2 separate regions of the Homo sapiens genome follow, and region 1 is linked to region 2. The links come from fine-mapping of genetic effects on gene expression. Tissue or cell type: whole blood. Region 2 holds a variant in brackets; the other region holds the start of a gene. All regions are shown on one strand. Distances are from middle to middle.

What was found. PIP is the estimated chance that this variant, and not a neighbour inherited with it, causes the effect.
Region 1: it holds the start of PLEK, and the variant in region 2 is fine-mapped to the expression of PLEK in whole blood (TOPMed, PIP above 0.99).

Annotation. Positions count from the first base shown.
Region 1 is chr2:68,360,201-68,370,654 of GRCh38, forward strand. PLEK (pleckstrin) reads left to right here and starts at 5,082. Exons shown (of 9, transcript NM_002664.3): 1 at 5,082-5,193. The coding sequence starts at 5,152. It overlaps LOC101927723 (a long non-coding RNA gene), which reads right to left and starts at 6,204. Exons shown (of 2, transcript NR_187652.1): 1 at 5,215-6,204; 2 at 1,017-2,259. RefSeq lists enhancers at 2,041-2,110, 5,042-5,121.
Region 2 is chr2:68,439,009-68,449,462 of GRCh38, forward strand. It overlaps the pseudogene WDR4P2. Among named protein-coding and RNA genes, the nearest start is that of FBXO48, 23 kb to the right of the region's middle. RefSeq lists enhancers at 2,413-2,462, 2,553-2,602 and a silencer at 2,793-3,032. The variant T/G (reference allele first, on the strand shown) is at 5,388.

The sequences.
Region 1 (10,454 bases), 79 kb before region 2:
TCATCTTTTGCATTTCCTGCTGAAATCTTAGAGCCATCTATTTCTCCAAGGACGTCTCATTCCTTTTATTGGAGAATCGTATTAGTAATCAAGATCTGGGAGCTAGATGTGCTTGACACTACCAGGGTGTTGTCGCTTCTAGGCCTTCTCCACTAACACAGCAAGGAAATATATGTGTGAAAGTGCTTTCTTTTGAGCAAGTGGGTATATGTTCACACTTTTATATATTCTTAAATCATTTCCATATGAATTTGTGTATCTGTTGAAAGGGGATTACTCAGTATGTGGGCTCAGTTCCCTCTTTTGAACTGAAGCCCATTGGGCACCAACTAGATATTCTCTAATAGGTTTAAGTGAATTAGACAACTTAATGCTTTCTTTTTGTTGGGAGAAAGTTCTCCATGGGTTTTTTGTGTATAGGTACAACTTGCAAGCAGAGGTACTCTATTTTATGGATGCTTGTACAGTGAACAACAGCTTTGAAGGTAGAGGTTGTCTCCTTCCAGAGCAAAGGGCAGATTCACTTACTGTCCAGTAAAATAAAAATAAGGTCTGCCTCTGAGACAAAGTTTGGGCTGGTTTGCTTGCAGCCCATTACAAAAGATTCATGTTCCCTAAGCTCTGGGTCCTCAATTGTGATGCGAACCCTCAGTATGTGCAGCATCCATCTAGGCCGCTCCACTTTGTCCTTGGTAGACTTAGGGCCAAAAAGCATCAAGACCAATATGGAGCTAATTCTGTTTACTGTGCTGTGAGTAGCAAAGTCCTTTGTCTCACTCAAAACTCCAGAAGTCTTGAGTCTTCTGTGAGCATCCCTGAAACAGGCAGGCTGACCTGTTAACTTACAAGTAGGGTAACATCTCAGACTCTTCTCACAGGTTTTGACACCTTTTACTTAATTTATATTTAGCACTAGAGGTAGTCTGATATTTCTCAGCTAAATTTAATGTCTCTTTTGAATTACCAATGCTAAAGAATAACTTTGAAAAAGATAAAACGATGACTCTTACATATAATAGAATGAAAACATGTCAAAATTTTATTTAACTCATGAATTAAAGGGGAAACTAGCCAGAGGTCACCACCAGTTCAAAGGCAAGGTCAAAGACCAATTTATATAGAGTAAAGCAACGTTGAAATTCATTTACCAATGGACACAAAATTGACTTTTTCCATGGGAGGCGGGGTGGAGTGCGGGTGTGGGGTAAGGTGGAGTCTACTGAACTTCCATCAGGCAGAATTTATTTGCATGTTTATAGACAAGAATTATTTGTATTTATCCACAATCTACCGAGCTCTAGAATAACTCCAAGACAAGAAAAAAACACAGATTCCATAGAAACAAATAACTTAGAAAAGTGTGCTGTAAAGAATGCATAGTTTTCCATTGGAGATGCTCAGTAATCATTTTTGCTTATTCAGAAGTCTTAACTTGCCCTTACAGCAATAAAATGTGCTACAAGAATAATGTTTCCAAGGTTATTGATCAAATGTGTACAGAAAGAGATGTTAAAAAGTCATTCTAGGCTGGGTGCGGTGGCTTACACCTGTAATCCCAGAACTTTGGGAGGCCAAGGCAGGCAGATCACCGGAGGTCAGGAGTTCAAGACCAGCCTGGCCAGCATGGTGAAACCTTGTCTCTACTAAAAATACAAAAATAGCCGGGCGTGGTGGCGTGTCCCTGTAATCCCAGCTACTTGGGAGGCTGAGGTGGGAGGATCACTTGAACCTGGGAGGTGGAGGTTGCAGTGAGCCAAGATCAGGCCATTGCACTCCAGCCTGGGCGACAGAGCAAGACTCTGTCTCAAAAAAAAGTCATTCTAGACACATATACATAAGATACTGGAGGAGGTTCTAATGATCTGATCTGGGAGAGGGATCTGACACAGCAGAAGAAAACTTGGTCAAACTCTGTTGAGAGAAGTCCTGAAAGGCGTCATTGATTCAGATAGTTCTCTTTACTGACCACTAGGTGTCGCTAAGTAGGCGCGATGACACGTGGCAGGAGGGGGAGGGGCAAAGGCGGCAGCATCCAGTCCATCAATGGCGATGTTCAGCAGATTCACAAATGCCGGAGGTTCCTTGGTGTCAAGACATTTTTACCCCTGCACCTATTCAGGCGCCTGGTACATACTAAACACTTAATACCATGTTTCTTGAAATGAATTATTCGGAACGCAGGGGGTGCTTTTACACCGGAGGCATCCAAAAATAATATGAGGTTTCTGAGTGAGGGTTCTTTAAAGCCTTCTGATCATGCTAGGACAAACAGTGAAGACATTCCAAATTAGAAGTCACTTGGTCAGTTAAACAAAAGGAGATATATTTAACTATGAAATCAGACTTGGTAAATCTAAGAGTGGTTTCCATTGACTATACAGACATAGCAAAATACTTGTTTGAGTGCAGATACAGAAAATTACCCTTTTATTTGTTCCTGTTTTGCTCAGGTGACATCAAACGTTGATCCCTCTACTCTCAGCCCCCAACACTTTATAACAATTTCTAATTAATTTTGGTGCAATGAGAAACTGAAAAGAAACCATCAACGATTTTAAGTAATGGATATTAGCATAAAATGAAAAGTGAGAAATACAGGGGCAGTGACTGTTAGCTAGAAACACAGCTGGAGGGAAGAGGAGAGGGAATCAGGAAGCTCTCAGAAAACCCCAAGAACAGAACTTCTTCTTTCCCCTAACTTTCCTGGCTCCTCAGATGCCCTCGTGGACGTCTGTCAGTTTTGCCTTTCTCGGAGCCATCGCTCATCTATTGTTAATAGCATCTTGATTTTACTTTAGGGGACACCTCCCTTCTCCCATTGAGCATGGTCCTGCTGGGGCTGTCGGTTCACATGTTCCCCCTTCAGATACCGGAGAGAGAAGCACTAGGCCAAGTTAGGCCAATCAGAGGCCTGATCCCTGGAGACTACTGCAGAGTCTGAAAACCACTGGCATTCTTTCATCTTGGTGTCTTGCTTCCTGGAACCCCACAACTGCCCTGATTCCTGTCCTTTCAAAGACCCCAGTCTTCATTTTTCCTGCAGTCTGTGGGCCACTCCATTCTCTTCCAGTAAATTCCTATTTGCCTCTATTAGCCAGAGTTGTTATCTGTTGATTGCAGTGAAAGAACACTGACGGGTGTAATGAGGAAAATCTAGTCCTACGATTGCTTTCATCATCTCTGTTGAACTTATCATTGAAAAGGATCAGCTCTAGGATAACGGAGATTTGCCTTGAAGATGAAGAACAACTAATATTTATGGATACTAGTTATGTTTCAGACACTCTTCTAAATACTTCCATGTCTATCTCATTTAATCTTCAGAATGACCTCATTGGATAGGTGTTATTATCCCCGTATTACAGATGAGAAAACTGAGGCACAAAGTAATAACAAACTTGCTCATTTTCACATGGTCAGATTAACGGGTCTCTAAGTTTATTCTATGGAATATTCGTTTTTCAGGATTATATTGGTTTCCTGGGGCTGCCATAACAAAGTACCACAAACTGGTGGCTTAAAACAATGGAAATTTATTGTCTTACAGTTCTGGAGGCCGTAAGTCTGAAATCAAGGTGTCGTCAGCACCATGTTCTCTATAGCAACTCTAGGAGAGAATTGTTGCGTGCCTCTTCCAGCTTCTGGGGGTTGCTGGCCATCCTTGGCGTTCCTTGGCTTGTAAATGCATCACTCTGTTGTCACATGGCTGTTTTCTGTGTGCCCTTTTCTTATAAGGACACCAGTCACATTGGATTAAGGGCCCACTTGTTTCAGTATGACCTCATCTTAACTAATTATATCTACAATGACCCTATTTCCAAATAAGGATGCATTCTGAAGTGCTAAGGGTTAGGACTTCTTTTTTGGGAGATCTAATTCAATTTATGACAAAAAAAGTTAACATAAATTGTTCAAAAAAGAATGCTATGGCGAAGTAAGTTTGGAAAACACCATTATAGGATTCTTTACTGTAGTACTTTGGCGGGGCGAAGGTCTTTAATTTGTTCATCATTTAGAGGAGTTGCCAACCTGGGATTATTTTGTAAAGTTTCTCAAAAACCTGTTTGATGATGGACTTCTTTTTACAGGCTGACTGTGAGATCAGCACTCAACGTGGAACACCTGTTCTCATGCCTGATGTGAGGCAGTGGCACCCTAGCACATCCCTCCCTGGTTCTTCTGCTTTCCCCTGTGACCTGCAGCGTCAACTTGAGACAACTTTTCTTCTCTGAGCCTGAGTTTCCTTACTCTAAGATAAGGAAAATAATATACTTTCCCTATGGGTTTGATGTGTGGACTCATTTTTGTTGTTGTTTGTTTTGAGATGAAGTCTTTCTCTGTCGCCCAGGCTGGAGTGCAGTGGACCAATCTCGGCTCACTGCAACCTCCGCCTCCCAGGTTCAAGTGATTCTGCTGCCTCAGCCTCCCGAGTAGCTGGGACTACAGGCACACGCCACCATGCCCGGCTAATTTTTGTATTTTTAGTAGAGACAAGGTTTCACCATGTTGGCCAGGCTGGTCTTGAACTCCTGACCCCAGGTGATCCATCTGCCTTGGCCTCCCAAAGTGCTGGGAGTACAGGCGTGAGCTACCATGCCTGGCCGATGTGCAGACTAATTTAGTTTAAAATAAGTAGGCTGAGAAACACTTGATACAGGGCTTGGCATAGAGAGAAGTAGGCATTCATTTAGTAGTTAACTTTGTTATGCTAACCAGATGGTTCTGAATTTCTTGGCATTTTTATTGGGCATTTCCAGGATCTCAAGAATAATCCTTACTCAGGACAATTTTCACCAACAAGTTTTTCTTGTTCATCTTCCTCTTCCTTTCATCACTTCTTTTTCTCTTTAAAAGAGGGATTTTCTGTATGGTAGTAAGAATTTCCCTTAGGTAAATATTCAACCCAACTGTGGTTTTAATAAGTCTCCAGCATTAGCAAGGAATGGGTGGTTTACTCTGCAGTTCCTTATTCTGATCTTCCAACCCAGTGAGGGGAAGAGGATGTGATCATGCGACCGCCAGCAGAAGGGAAATTGTGAAAGCGACCTGCTGTAGAAAAGGCGGCCCACAGCCACCTCAGCATGCAGAGGAGGCCCAGCTGCTGAGAGGAGTTGCCTGAGAGTGACCTTTGCATCTGCCTGTCCAGCCAGCATGGAACCAAAGCGGATCAGAGAGGGCTACCTTGTGAAGAAGGTGAGCGAAGGTGCCACTTACCAGGGTGTCAGTGGACATGGGCTGGGGAGACTTGGGTTCAGCTCCACCGGCTACCTGCTCATCTTAGGAATGTTTCCTGTTCAACCAGTTGGGTTGAAATAGGGGAGCGTGGTAGCACATAGAATGTTGGAGTGGGGTTAGGGGAGTGGGGATACTCATCCAGCCCCGGCTTCCTTACAGTTTGATATTACGGGTCTGAGAATTCCAGATGGCAGGGCCTGGAAGGTGGGGATCTAAGCTAACTCCCTCCAGATTTAGAATATCCTTTTTAAGAGGCACACAGATGTGTTCTGTCAGAAGATATACTCCTCTTCTATGGAGGTTTCTTGGAGGGACTATTCATTTTTTATTTAAATTCCACTTCCCCTCAGTTCTTTTTTTGGGAGGCAAGGGGAAAAAAGTGATTAAAGAGTTGATATAATGATAGAGTAATTACGGCTTATTTCTTGGGCCATCTTCTTGGAATTGACACGTTTAAAAAAAACCTTATCTTTTTTTAATTGGGCTGAAATCTCTTCACTCACAATTCTTAGTAAATTTGCATAATGTGGCATCGAGGTGGTAGATGCACCATTTTAAAGATTAGGGTACTGAAAAAGGCTTAGCCTCCCTGGTGTGCATCATGAAAATTGAATTTTCTTAGTGCTGTTTGTCTTTCTTCGGATGCTGAGTGTGTGCTGTGTGGTTGTGAAAGCTCCCCGGGATGTGAATTCACACATAGGACTTGGTGTCCTGTGGGCAACACCTATATACACAGATATGCTCACACTAACCTTAGTGAGTGGATTGTTTCAGAAATGAGCTGAACGTAGTGCCTTCCTTCAGGTGCTTAGCTTTTTAGTTGAATGAACAGTGAATGTGAGTCTGTTTTAGGCTACTCATTTGTTTCACGTTTTAACCTACAATGTTCTACCTGTAAGGGGGGTTAAATAGCACACATTGCTGCCTGCTTCCATTTTGACTTCAGGCTGGAGGGACCCTAGGTCATCTGGCCTAATTCCTTCATTTGCAGAAGAGGAGACAGACCCAGAAGGCTCGGTGATTGCCCCAAGTCACATGGCTATGACAGTTGTGACCAGCCACTCCTTCTCTGATGCTTAGGTTTCTGATTCATGGCACTGAACTTTGTTCATTACTCCAGCATTTTCTTAAAGCAGATTTATTCCAAGTTAGGATTTGTAGTGTATTTGTGATGGTGAGAGCTATGAGTTGGTACTGGAGAATAAGTGGGCCCTCAGCTGCTAATCTCTGTAGCCAGCTGTGCTTCGAAACATCCTTTGGAAAAGACACACTTATACATAGAAGTGTAAAAGATTACTTGCAATAGGCACCAATAATAATTGGCGAGACCTGGTAATAATTAATATTGACTTATTCCTTTCCTGATCACTTGTGCTAGTATCCTGAGAAGAGCAAGTGAATAGGAACATTTCTGCAAGTTTTTGTTTGTTTTTTTAAACAATTAAAAACATCTTGCAATGAAAATTGCTGTTATAAAGTTTGTATGCTCATATTTTAATCTCCCTAAATTACAAAAATATGAAGACTAAATTTCTAATAAGTGAAGCTGTCTCACTAAAAATTGGGGATGATAGAGTCAGGGTTGTCAAGCATGTGGATTTAAATTAATAAATAGTTTTTAATTAGTGAGAGTAGTTCTCTCAGATTGTAAAAGCCAATCTAGAAAATGTGCCTGGAATTAAATAGTGAAATTTTGTATTGATAGTTTTACAATTTATATCTTCCATAATTTTCATGTTTACAAGTTACATCTTCCATAATTACTGCATTTTTCTCTGGGACCTTTTGAACACTCTGATATAATGCATTAAGATTCTCTTTTTTTTTTTTATTCTTCTAAAACTTTAATTTTAGGTTCAGGAGTATAGGTACAGGCTTGTTATATAGGTAAACTCCTGTGACAGGCGTTTGTTGTACAGATCATTTTGTTACCTAAGTACTATGCCTAGTATCCAATAGTTATTTTTTCTGATCCTCTCCCTTCTCCAACCCTCCACTCTCACATAGCTTCCAGCGTCTCATTTGATATTTTAAAGAAATGTTTGGTCCAGAAATATTCCCTTTTTCAGCTGCAGAACTAAACCTAAAGACAGAGTTTCCTGAGAAGGTATTAAAGTTCTTAACTACTTTAGACATTAAGTTTCCTTCAGTTACCTCACGTGTGGGTTAAAAACTGTATATGTCAAGAATCTGACATATAATTGGTGTACATAAGCTGCATAAGACACTGATTATTTGTATCAGCATCAATATATGCTTCAGTAGATAGTGGGGCCTCCCCTAGATGTTAATGGGGCTATGTACTGGTTCCTGGGTTGGTTGCCAAATTAATTATGAAGGAAGGGCCATAAAAATCTTTGAAAAGGCTCTTAGAAGCCTTGGCTATGGTTTTTGATATTAAAGCATGAAAAATAATATAGTGAATCTTCCTCCATTCACCTTTTTCTCTTATGCAGTTCAAGATACCTGGGTAGTAACAGAGAACATCTTTGTCCTGTGTCTTGTTTTATGAAATAATTTTATTGCAGATAAGTTGTTTTGGGTGGAAAAAATATAGCATTAGAAAATGCTGGTGCAGGAATTTTGTCAGGTCAGAAATCTTGGGGTCAATAGTGTTAACTGTAAAACGTTTCTGCTTTTCTTCTGTGCAAGATGACTGTTGACATTTCACAATCCAGGTTTCCTCTTTTGCCTCCTGAATAAGATCTCCAAATGAAGACAGTGGTTAAGAGGGGGAGGGAAAATACAAGATTCTGTCATTTTCCAGCTTTTTCATTCCAAGTAACACCCATGTCTCTTTGCCTCAGAGTCTTTCACCTTACTTTTTTGTTTTAAAAAAGAGCACTTCTAGCCAACCATGGAGCAGCAAGCTGCTATACGAACATGACTTCATTTAATCCTAACCACCCTATGTGATCCTCATCTTACAGATAAGAAAACTGAGGTTCACAGAGAATAAGTGATTCGTCCACAGTGAAACATGTGGCAAGAGGATGACCTGGGATTCAAATCCCGGCCTGCCTAACAGCAAAGCCTACCATCTCATTGATCCCAGGCAGCATTCTGAAAGGCAGGCTTGCCCTGGCCTGCAAAAGAACTCACTAGAGCCAGAGCAAGGCACGAACAAATTGTTTTGTGGGCAAGATTAAGTTTAAAAACCTCAGCCTCCTTTCCTCTCTGTTTAGGGGGTTTCTTTCTGGCCAATAAACATGTTTGGAAGGTACTCGAATACCTACTACTGAATTAGATATGTTCATCATCATAACTGGAAAAAATGAGAGAAGAGCAAATTATATGCTCTGCATAACCTAGACTCCTCCAAGTCATGTCTCAAACCAGCCTAATTCCTAGAGGTTTATGGAGCAAGCTGTTGTTTCCAGGACAACCAACCTCACAAGCACTTGGCGCAGCAGCGCTGACTCAGAAAGTGGCTGAGGGATTTGGATGTCCTTTGAGGCTGGGAGAAAGCATAGGAATCAGGGTGATGGGAAAGGGAAGGGCAAGCAGCAGGGACAGGAAAGGAAAGGGCTGCAGAAAGCTGTGGTAGAAGTGGAAGAGAGCCCGAGAGTCAGGGTCCTGGCCCAGGAGTTCTTTCCTGGATCTACCTTGTCTTCTAGGCAGCATGAAATAATCTGAAGCGATTTGTGCCTACTGATTCATCATCACTGTAACAGCTAACGCATGTGGTGTTTACCCTGAAGCAGGAACAGTTCCAAGCATTTCATGCCTTAATGCATTTATACAGCATACTTAAGACAACTCAACAAAATGGGGACAATTATTATCCTTACTTAACAGATAAGGAGATTGAAGTACAGAGAGGCAAATGGCCTTGTCCAAAGTCACACAGTTAATAAGTGGCAGAGCTGGTTTGCAACCCAGCAGTGTGGCCCCAGTATCACGCAGAGCCTAACCACTTTCTATGTGGCCCTCGTGGGCTCGTACTGCAGTGACATTCTTTTCCAAAGCACTGTCACCATGATGAGGGGTACCCAGGGGAACATTATGCCAGAGCGACTCCACAGTGTTGCCTACAAAACCGTACTCTTTTTTTTTTTTTTTTTTGAGATGGAGTTTTGCTCTTGTTGCCCAGGCTGGAGTGCAATGGTACGATCTCGGCTCACTGCAACCTCCGCCCCCAAAACCGTACTTTTACCTGTTTCTATGGTCGCCATTTTTCAAATGTATACTACATGCTGGCCACTGTGGTGAATGCTTTATGTATATTATCTCATTTAATCTTCACCACAATGTGAAACAGGTGCTTTGTTACCTTCATTTTACAGGTGAGGAGACTCATGCTTGGAAAAATTAAATAAGTTACCTAAGGTTACAGAGCCTGGAAGAGGCAAAATTGAGATCTGAATTTAAATCTAAGGCTCCAGAAGTCATGCTGTTAAGCACTCTCTGTGCCATTTCTGTATTACTTATTTAATATGTTTTCACTGATAAATTTTCCAACCTGGAAGAGTTCACTTATGTAAAAAATATGCTACTGAATAGACTAGTTCCTTTGCCTTCAGTGAGTTTGTATAGGCACAACACAACCATTTGTTTGGGATGTTATGTCAGTGATTTGATGGATCAGATTGGAAAACTAGATGATGTGATTTATGTTGTAGCCAACATAAGGGCTTAATTGAATGCAGCATCAACTTAAAATAACATGTCCCATGGGTGTGCAAGAATAGATAATAGTAACTGACAGTTCTGCTTTAGATATGCAGTTTTGATCACAGTGTAATTTTCCTTTGAATTCCAGCCATACATTGTATGTGAAAAGAGAAATTTGAGGGAAAGGGGAAGTTAAAAGAGATGCCTTCACTTTGTAGGGAGTGTCTGAGAGGGGTTCTAAACACAAATATCCGATTGCCCCAACCCTCAGCCATTGGTTGTAGCTTCTTTCTGTGATGCTGGGTGTACACAAGAAGGCACACCTCAATTTGTGCATTCATCACACTGACCTGGAGGTCACTCTCTCCCATGTGAGATTGTGAACTATTCGAGAGCAGAGATAGGGTCTTGTTTATTTTTGTTTTTATTTTTATTTTATTTATTTATGTATTTTGAGACAGAGTATTGCTCTGTAGTCTTGGCTGGAGTGGAATGGTACAATCTTGGCTCACTGTAACCTCCACCTCCAGGGTTCAAGTGATTCTCTTACATCAGCCTCCCAAGTAACTGGGACTACAGGCATGTGCCACCAAGCCCAGCTAATT
Region 2 (10,454 bases):
AGAGACAGGTGGGGACCATGCCACATGTGGAGGCTCCAGTAAATATCTCTGGTTTTATTTGAGACACATTGAGAAACCATTGACAGTTTTCATGTAGGGAGTGACATGATCACATTGGATGCTATTTGGAGAATAGATAGAAGGAATCAAGATTAGAAGCAATGTTGGGATGATATGGTAGTAGTCCAGGTGAGAAGTGAAATTGATGAGGTAGAATGCACAGAACTTGCGTGGATGTCTCATGGGTTTCTGGTTCAAGCAGTGGAATTCACAGTTTAAAGCAATGGAGAAAATTGGAGGAAGAAGAGGTAATTTCTTCCCAATCTCCACCCCTTCTATAGATGAGTTATACATCGGAGACCACAGGTTTTTAGAAGATGTAATTCTTTACAAAGAGACATTCATTCTAGTATTTCAAATTGCTGCCTGCATAAGTAGGAAGCTTCGGGCCCTGGGAAGGGGTTGTCATTCCTCAGTCTCTGACACAGCCCAGTTACTTATTTTTGGAGAAAAACACTGAATATGATGAATGATTTTCTAAGCAGTCAGAAAGATAAATGCAGAGATGGCTAGAAGGAAAAAGTATCCAATGTTCCATGTGTGTACATTCACCACAGCTGTGTTAATTCTAGATCATAAACTCTGCCCAGCGCTATAGCTTGAGAGTTAAAAAAAAAAAAAGAATAAAATATTTTTAAAGGTACTCTGGGCAAAAGAGAACACATTTAAAAAGAAAAACGTGAACAAAAATTTAAGTTAAAAGAATAAAAAAGGAACTATAAGTAAAAAGATTGAGGCAAGAATTATTCAGAAATTAAAGTAATAGATTTGGTTAAAAATAAAAAAGATCAAAAGAGCTATAACTAAAAAATTAAAGTAACAGATTAAGGTAGAAAATTATGGTAAAATTTAGAAAAAGATTAAAAGGATAAAATATACAGTGTAAAGTCAAGAATAGACCACGTGAAAAGTAAAAATGCTAGACCCATAAGATTTAGAAAGGTAAAATCACGACAAACCTAAAATAAGCTGAAGGATAAACAGAGAGAACAAAAATAGAGAGGTGACAAAAGACTAAAGGAGGAATTACATACAATCAAAATGTTAAAACTTGCTAAAATTTAACTCTAAATCCCCAAGCATTTATGGAATAAAGGTCTGGAAAAATAAGCTCCCATTACTTAAGAAGAAACAAAGCTGACAAGCCACATGACTTACTAAGAGCAGCCTCTGAGCCTACACAACCCTCATGGGTTGGGGGCTCCAGTCGGGTTTCTTGAGGGCAGTGCAGGGGGGCCTGAATTGCCAGGGTATGTGTATTAGTCTGTTCTCATGCTGCTGATAAAGACATACCCTAGACTGGGTAATTTATACAGGAAAATGCATGTAATGGACTTATAGTTCCACATGGTTGGGGAGGCCTCACAGACCTGGTGGAAGGCAAGGAGGAGCAAGTCACATCTTATGTGGATGGCGGCAGATAAAAAGAGAGCTTGTGCAGGGCAACTCCCATTTTAAAAACTATCAGCTCTCGTAAGGCCTGTTCACTATTATGAGAACAGCATGGGAAAGACCTGCCCCCATAATTCAATCATCTGTCACTGTGTCCCTCCGACAACATGTGGGAATTATGGGAGCTACAAGATGAGATTCAGGTGGGGATACAGAGCCAAACCAGATCAGCGCGTGACCTCTCATGTATCTGTTTAATGCCAACAGCAAGCCTGCTGGTCAACAGCAAGCAGAGCTCATATCTGCTATGTCAACAGCAATTCCAAGGAAGGGAATTCCTCCAAAGGTTGTTGGCAGGATAGCTTCTGTATAGTAAGCACTCAACTATTATTGTTATCTATGGACATTAATCTTGAGTGTTGACTTTTGAATCAAAAATACATTGTACTTTGGGCAGGGTCAGGAAAGTAGAATCCAAAAGTAAGTCATATTGAGATAAAATTATACACCATACTTGGGTACATTTTACTTTCCATTTTGAGGTGTGGATACTGTGTGTGTGTGTGTGTGTGTGTGTGTGTGTGTGTGTGTGTGTACTAAAGCACATAATCCAGGAGATGAATTTCAAAATTTCCATGTGATAGGTTTATTTTTAAATGAAATGAAATTTTGGATGTGAATTTTGGTTACTTTGCTCAACTCCCCAAGGCCTCTGGCTCATTCTTTCTGCCTATGCGAGTTTTCAGAGGGAAAGAATAAAAACATAATCTTAGAAATGTTCTCATCCCCAGGTGAACTCCTTTTACAGTCTTTTCACACAAGAGACTAGAATTTATTCACAATGTTAGTAAAAGGGTGAGAAATTTCTTTACACTTAACCCAACCTCAGAGCTCATATCTGCTATGTCAACAGAATATACTCACACCTACAGCTTGGTTTCACAGAGCTACAGAGTCAGTGGAAATGCCAGGCTGAAGTTTTGGAGAACAAATCCGTATGAAATAATATCCCTGTGGCAAAATACAGAATAATGACTTGGGCCTTTGTGGATAAAATACGCAAAAGCTGAATTTAAGTGTTCTTAATTGGATCTTTGAAGGTTCAGATAGAAACCTAGGGGGTGGCCTGTTGGCCAGGCCAGGTCTGAAGGGTGGAGTGGGAAGAGAAGTCTCTTCATTGGAGTATTATGTTCCCTGATATCTTATATTTCTAGCAGAAGAGGCTTTTTGTCATTTTGGGGCTATACTCTATGTTCTCTCTGGGGAAACACCCTACTCCATTTTCAGTCCAACCCTCCCACCTGGTTTGGGCAGGACTAGTTTCAGTTCTGTCATTTGCAACTAAAAGGGTACAGACAAATTCTGACTTTTGAGGTTTTGCAATCAGCCAACAGGGCTGCAATGGGGAACTAGCTGCTCCCACTCAAGCGCTTTGACTGGGCTTTAATAGAAGTATTGCGCCCTCTGCTGGCAGAGGATTAGCATTGACCAGATCTCAAGGACGATGTGACAGAAAGCATTTTAGAGCCAGTCCTGGAGTCAAGGTCTTTCTCCTCCATATGCAAGCTGTTTTGCTTTGCTTAAGTAATGTTACTTCTATAAGTCTGCATTTTTGTATCTTAAAAATATTAATGTCAGAAACTACCTTTCAAGACTCTTTGATGAGTACATAAATGGCCATGTGAAAAGTACTTAATCGTTGAAAGATACTATTATAAGACAGTTTTGGCGAAGAAAGTCAGACTGTTTATCAAGTTTTTTCATGGTTCTAAAATATGATATTCAATGTTATTGGTTCTCTGGAGCTGAGAAAACATACATACATTGTATCAACTGAAGAAACTATTGTTATAGAATGTAGAGTACTAATATTAGTAAAGTTCTTAGAAATTTTCAGGTGAGAAATGTATAACAAATCAGATATGCCAAAAAGTCCCTTTATAAAATTTAATATACATTTCCAGTAGAAGTATTAGATAAAATAGACATTAATGGGTTTTCCTTTAACATGATTTTATATATGTATGAGAGACAGAGACACAGGAGAGAGGGAGGGAGAGAGAGAGAAAGAGAAAGAGAATATTATAATGGAGTAATACTAGAATACTGGAAACATTCCCACTAAGGCAAGAAACAAGGTAAAAATGTCTGCCATCTCCATTACTATTTAACATCATATTGGAGACATTAGTATACTAGTTAAAAAATTGGGGCATAAGACTTGGAAAAGTAGTTAAACTCTCTCCATTTGCAGTTGATATGACAGTATATCTGGAAAACCCAATAGAATAAATGATGACTCTAAATGAACAAAAGACCTCAGTAAGTTAGCAGGCTACAAAATGAGTGTACAAAAATCACACGTGTGTGTGAGTGTAAATGTGTGTGTATGTAAATGATAGCTAGTTAGAAGATAAAAGAAGAAAAAATTCAATTTGCAATAATGACAAAAATATAAAATACTTGAAAGTAAACTTAAGAGGTAATGTGTAAAATCCATATGAGGAAAAGTTTAAAACATTCCTAAAAGACAAATGGAAATATTTCTTGGTCTTGGATAAGATAACTTGACATTATGATGAAATAAATTATCTCTAATTTAATACCACCCTAATAAAATTGCAATATGTAGTTTTCCTGGGACTACAGAAATTGATTCCAAAGTTCATGTGGATAAACAAACATATATGCTTAAATAGGAAAACCAGTAAAAAAGGTCAGTGAAGAGAGAGAACCCTATTAAATATCAATGCACAATAAATATTTTGTATAATTAAAACAGTGTGGTATGAATGGATAGACAGATCTGGAACATAATGGAAAGTTCAGAAATAGAACCAACTAAAAAGAAAATTTTCATATAAATAAGGTGGCATCTCAAATTACAGACAGACTTATTAATAAATGGTGTTAGGACAACTGAACAGTCACTTGAAAACAGATAGCTTTGGATCCTTAACATACATTATACTCCAGGAAAAACTTATATAGAAAGAATGAGCCACATAAGTACTTGAAGAAAACATAAGTGAATTTGTTTGTAATCTTGTGGTGGGAAAAATTTTAAACCATGTTCATCATCCAGATATAATAGCAGAAAAAAAGCAATAATTTTGACATCAATAAAAAGGACTGGTCAGGCGTGGTTCCAGTACGTTGGGAGGCTGAGACAGGAGGATCTCTTGAGCCCAGAAGTTTGAGACCAGTCTGGGCAACAAGGGGAGGCTGTCTACACACACACACACACACACACACACACACACACACACACACAATTATTTGGATATGGTGGTGCATCTCTGTAGTCCCAGCGAGCTGGAAAGCTGAGGTGGGAGGATCACTTGAGCCTAGGAGGTCAAAGCTGCAGGGAGCCATGATTGTACCACTGCACTTCAGTCTGGGCAACAGAGAAAGACCCTAACTCTAAAAATATAAATAAAATAAAATGTAAAGAATATTTGTTTAAAAAAAAAAGCATCACAAGCAAAGTCAAAAGACAAGTGACAAACTGGGAGTAATATAATTGCAACATATGTCATAGATAAAGAACTAAACTCCTCAATTTACAAAACACTCAAAAATTGAGAAACACAAAGATTCATACACACCAAAACCCACCCATGCCCTTAAACATATAAACCTCATGTTTATGGCAGAGAAATTTGAATTAAATTTACAATGAGGAAGTTCTCTCAACTTTAGTGTATATTTGGAAAAGCTCATAGTAAATTACTGAGAAAAAATTAATATATTTCTCATTTTCAGGTTGGCACACATTCAGAAGCTTGAAAACACATTTTTCTGTGATCAGCTGAGGGAAATTTCAATCTGAGCTGGGTATTAGATGATATGATTATTGGATGAAAGTTAAATTTCTTGGGTGTGATTATGGTTATGCAGGCATGTGTGCATTTCCTTAAGAAATACATGCTATG[T/G]CAGGGCGCGGTGGCTCATGCCTGTAATCACAGAATTTTGGGAGGCTGAGGTGGGCGGATTACGAAGTCAGGATATTGAGACCATCCTGGCCAATATGGTGAAACCCCATCTCTACTAAAAATACAAAAATTAGCTGGGCGTGGTGGCATGTGCCTTAATCCCAGCTACTTGGGAGGCTGAGGCTGGAGAATCACTTTAACCATGGAGTCAGAGGATCACGCCACTGCACTCCAGCCTGGTGACAGAGCGAGACTCCACCTCAAAAGAAAAAAAAAAAGAAAGAAATACATGCTATGATATTCTGGGGCAAAATGTCATGAAGTATGCAAACCTACTTTCAAATACATCAGCTCAACAAAAGTGTGTGTGTGGTTTTATATTTATCTCTCTTATTTCTTTTTTTTTTTTTACTGTGTCAATAAAAGTTTATTCACAGACATTGAAATTTGAATTTCACGATTTTCATGTCATGAAATATATTTTTAACTTGTTTTCAACGATTTTTAAAATGTAAAAAACATTCGCAGGCCATATATCAGGCAGTGGGCAGGATTCAGCCCACATGCCAGTTTGCCAACCCTATCTTACGTGAAGATACCGACAAGACCAACCTTAACTTCTCCTAAAACCAAAATTTTCAAAGCAGACTATTAACAAGAGCATGCCCCGCTCCAGATTCCCCAGAATTGTGAAGGAGGTGAGGCTGCTGGTACAGGAGGACAATGGTCTGGCATGGCCCCTCTGTTCTGAAACCCCTGGTCCCCAGCACAGGGGAGTGGGCCTCAGCTTTGCAGACAGCACTGTTTCCAGATCACTGTTAAAAGGAAAACTAAGGATTCTAAGTCCCCAGCGAAAACCCACACCAAAATCATCACCAGCGTGCACATCTGTTCCCTTGTTGAGATTTAATCACTGAAGAGCAGGTGGAAGCCGTCCTGAACGAATTACCCCATGTACCTAGAAGCCTCTTCCCAAATCAAGCAGTGATCACCTCACTCATAAACAGAGCACGCACCCAAAGGTTTTGCTTGATGTATTTTGAGACTAGTTTCACGTGTTGCTGCTAAACGTTTCCAGGGAGTTGCAAAAGTTAATCCTTATGGATCGGTGATTGAAATACAGTGACATCCCTGCTGCTCTGCAGTGTGCGCAAAGGTCAAATCAAAATAACAAACACGCACGACGTCTTCGATCACCTTCCTGTAAAACCGGGTTTCTAGCCGGACCCATGTCCTCACAGTTCCTGAATCAAGTTCACCGTCTGTGCAAGCGCCACCTGACAGAGCTCCCTGCGACACTGAAACGCGTTTGGGCACTTCCCACGTGGGAACCACTCGCCACGGGCACCTCCTGAGTACAAGGTGCAGTGCTGGGGCTGGGGCAGGCTGAAGCGTTCGTTCTAAGTTTCTTTATTATTATTATTATTATTATTATTATACTTTAAGTTTTAGGGTACATGTGCACAATGTGCAGGTTAGTTACATATGTATACATGTGCCATGCTGGTGCGCTGCACCCACTAACTCGTTATCTAGCATTAGGTATATCTCCTAATGCTATCCCTCCCCCCTCCCCCCACCCCACAACAGGCCCCAGAGTGTGATGTTCCCCTTCCTGTGTCCATGTGTTCTCATTGTTCAATTCCCACCTATGAGTGAGAATATGAGGTGTTTGGTTTTTTGTTCTTGCGATAGTTTACTGAGAATGATGATTTCCAGTTTCATCCATGTCCCTACAAAGGACATGAACTCATCGTTTTTTATGGCTGAATAGTATTCCATGGTGTATATGTGCCACATTTTCTTAATCCAGTCTATCATTGTTGGACATTTGGGTTGGTTCCAAGTCTTTGCTATTGTGAATAATGCCACAATAAACATACTTGTGCATGTGTCTTTATAGCAGCATGATTTATAGTCTTTGGGTATATACCCAGTAATGGGATGGCTGGGTCAAATGGTATTTCTAGTTCTAGATCCCTGAGGAATTGCCACACTGACTTGCACAATGGTTGAACTAGTTTACAGTCCCATCAACAGTGTAAAAGTGTTCCTATTTCTCCACATCCTCTCCAGCACCTGTTGTTTCCTGACATTTTAATGATTGCCATTCTAACTGGTGTGAGATGGTATCTCATTGTGGTTTTGATTTGCATTTCTCTGACGGCCAGTGATGGTGAGCATTTTTTCATGTGTTTTTTGGCTGCATAAATGTCTTCTTTTGAGAAGTGTCTGTTCATGTTCTTTGCCCACTTTTTGATGGGGTTGTTTGTTTTTTTCTTGTAAATTTGTTTGAGTTCATTGTCGATTCTGGATATTAGCCCTTTGTCAGATGAGTAGGTTGCGAAAATTTTCTCCCATTTTGTAGGTTGCCTGTTCACTCTGATGGTAGTTTGTTTTGCTGTGCAGAAGCTCTTTAGTTTAATGAGATCCCATTTGTCAATTTTGGCTTTTGTTGCCATTGCTTTTGGTGTTTTTAGACATGAAGTCCTTGCCCATGCCTATGTCCTGAATGGTAAAGCGTAGGTTTTCTTCTAGGGTTTTTATGGTTTTAGGTCTAACGTTTAAGTCTTTAATCCATCTTGAATTGATTTTTGTATAAGGTGTAAGGAAGGGATCCAGTTTCAGCTTTCTACATATGGCTAGCCAGTTTTCCCAGCACCTTTTATTAAATAGGGAATCCTTCCCCCATTGCTTGTTTTTCTCAGGTTTGTCAAAGATCAGATAGTTGTAGATATGCAAAAATATGGAACACTAAGTTTCAACAGCCTCGTATGGCGAGCAGCTACTGCGGGGCAGCGCATCACCTGGACCGTGAGATGGTGGGAACAACAGGAAAGCGTCCACAGCGTCGGCGATAGATCCTCCTAGAGGAAGCGCGCCAGGCTCCAGAATAGCAGAAAACTGACAGCTGCCACCACTGCAGGTTCACACGCTGCCTTCAACGTGAAGGTAAAGTGCTTCCACTCCACCCGTCTGGCTTCCCTTCAACCAGAAAGGAGCACAGGCACCAGGCAAGAGCCTGTGCCCAGCAACACAGAATGTTCTAGAGCCCAGGAGACAGTCCCGTTCTCTGAGCTGAGCTGGTCGCACCTGATGTCACCTTTTCCTTTTTTTTTTTTTGAGACGGAGTCTGGCTCTGTCACCCAGGCTGGAGTGCAGTGGCGCGATCTCGGCTCGCTGCAAGCTCTGCCTCCCGGGTTCACGCCATTCTCCTGCCTCAGCCTCTTGAGCAGCTGGGACTGACTACAGGCGCCCGCCACCACGCCCGGCTAATTTTTTGTATTTTTTTAAGTAGAGACGGGGTTTAACCGTGTTAGCCAGGATGGTCTCAATGTCCTGACCTCGTGATCTGCCCGCCTCGGCCTCCCAAAGTGCTGGGATTACAGGCGTGAGCCAAAACGCCCGGCCACCTTTTCCTTTTTGAAGGGAGATGCCAGGATGCAGGGGGAACAAGTGAAAACTACTTTTCCTGTTTCGAGGGTGTGGGGCACCACCGACAGCCAAGATCAGCAACGCCAGGCTGACTCCCCCGGCCTTATCTTCTTGGCCTGCCCATTGGCCCAGGTGGGGGACTCAACTGCGCTGCTGCTTCTTCAGCTGCTGCTGCAGTCTCTCCTCTTTCTTCTTCAGGTAGAAGGTTATGTTGTCAAAGTTGGCCTTGTAGAGACTGCTAAAGCTGGGGTTCACGCAGGCAGAGCCTTCCAGCATGGCCCGGTTCCCACAAAGAACACTGGAGACTTTCTTTAACATGGCACTTTCAGGAACAGACTGCCACTGGCCACCCACAGGCCTGCAGAGCACCAGGGGAGGGGGGCTTCCAGGCAGTCCTGGAGCACCGACAGCCCCTGGGTTTCCTCAAAAGCTACATCCCACACTCGATGCTGGAATGACAGCTGCTGCCTGTACACCAGCTTCTGTCTACCGGCGTGAAACTGGAAGATGTATCCCACAGCAATGCAGGTGCTCAGAAGCACCACCCGGTTCTCCTGGCACCAGAACGCAATCCTGGACGCGGCAAACCTCTGGGGGGACCTGGAGGTCCGCGGACTCTTGGAGACTGTGGAGGTGACAGAAGTGAAGTTGGCGGCCGCTTCTGTACTCCCAGAGCCTCAGGGTGCAGGCCCCGGAGGAGGATGGAAGCAGCTCAGGCTGAGTGGGCAACATGGAGATGTAGTTCACAAACTGTGTGCCCGAGGCAGGAGGACTCAATGCTGCGGGGCATGGCGGCCCTGCTGACCTGGATCTTCTCGTCCCGGTCCGCAGTGAGGACGAAGTGGTCATCAGGATGCACAGCCACGTCTAATAGCATGGACAGAAAGGTGCTGCAGCTCCAGTCGGCCGCATCCGTGTGGCTCCAGCACCGAAGAGGAGACGCCTCCAGACTTGTCAGCCACCAAGACCTTCTCTTCGGAGGCTGTGAAGGTCAGGTCCGTACACCTCCTTGTCATGGTCCTGACACTCAGACATTGCCATGGTTATGTACAGAAAAGAATCAGACACTTACTGCCATCGGTTAAAGAAAACAGCTGCCAGACTTGGAGAAGGTGGACCGACAATTGCACCGCTCCCCTGAACCAAGGGCGGCTCGTCGTCCCCTTTATTTTCTTGTGACTTGTTTTCAAGCACTGCAGTCATAGATGAAGAGGCTGTCATCGTCACTGCTTGCAGTGGAGGTGGTCTGGAACCGGCTGCTCCCCTGCACCACCAGCTTCTGCCCGCACAACGCCAGCCCCGCAGAGTCTGCCTTGTGCCTACCCGCCTCGCCGCCATGCATATTTCCCCACCCAGCACATTTTTAACTTATTTCAATAGTTTTGGGGGAACAGGTGGGTTTTGGTTACATGGATAAGTTATTCAGTGGTAATTACTGAGATTTTGGAGCACCCAATCATCTGAGCAGTGTATGGTGAACCCAATGTGTAGCCTTTTATCCCTTGCCCACACTTTCCCATTCCCCTCGGGTCCCCAAAGTCCATTATATTATTCTTTGAGTCTTCATAGCTTAAGCTCTCCCTCATAAGATAGAACATACAATGTTTGGTTTTCCATTCTTGAGTTATTTCA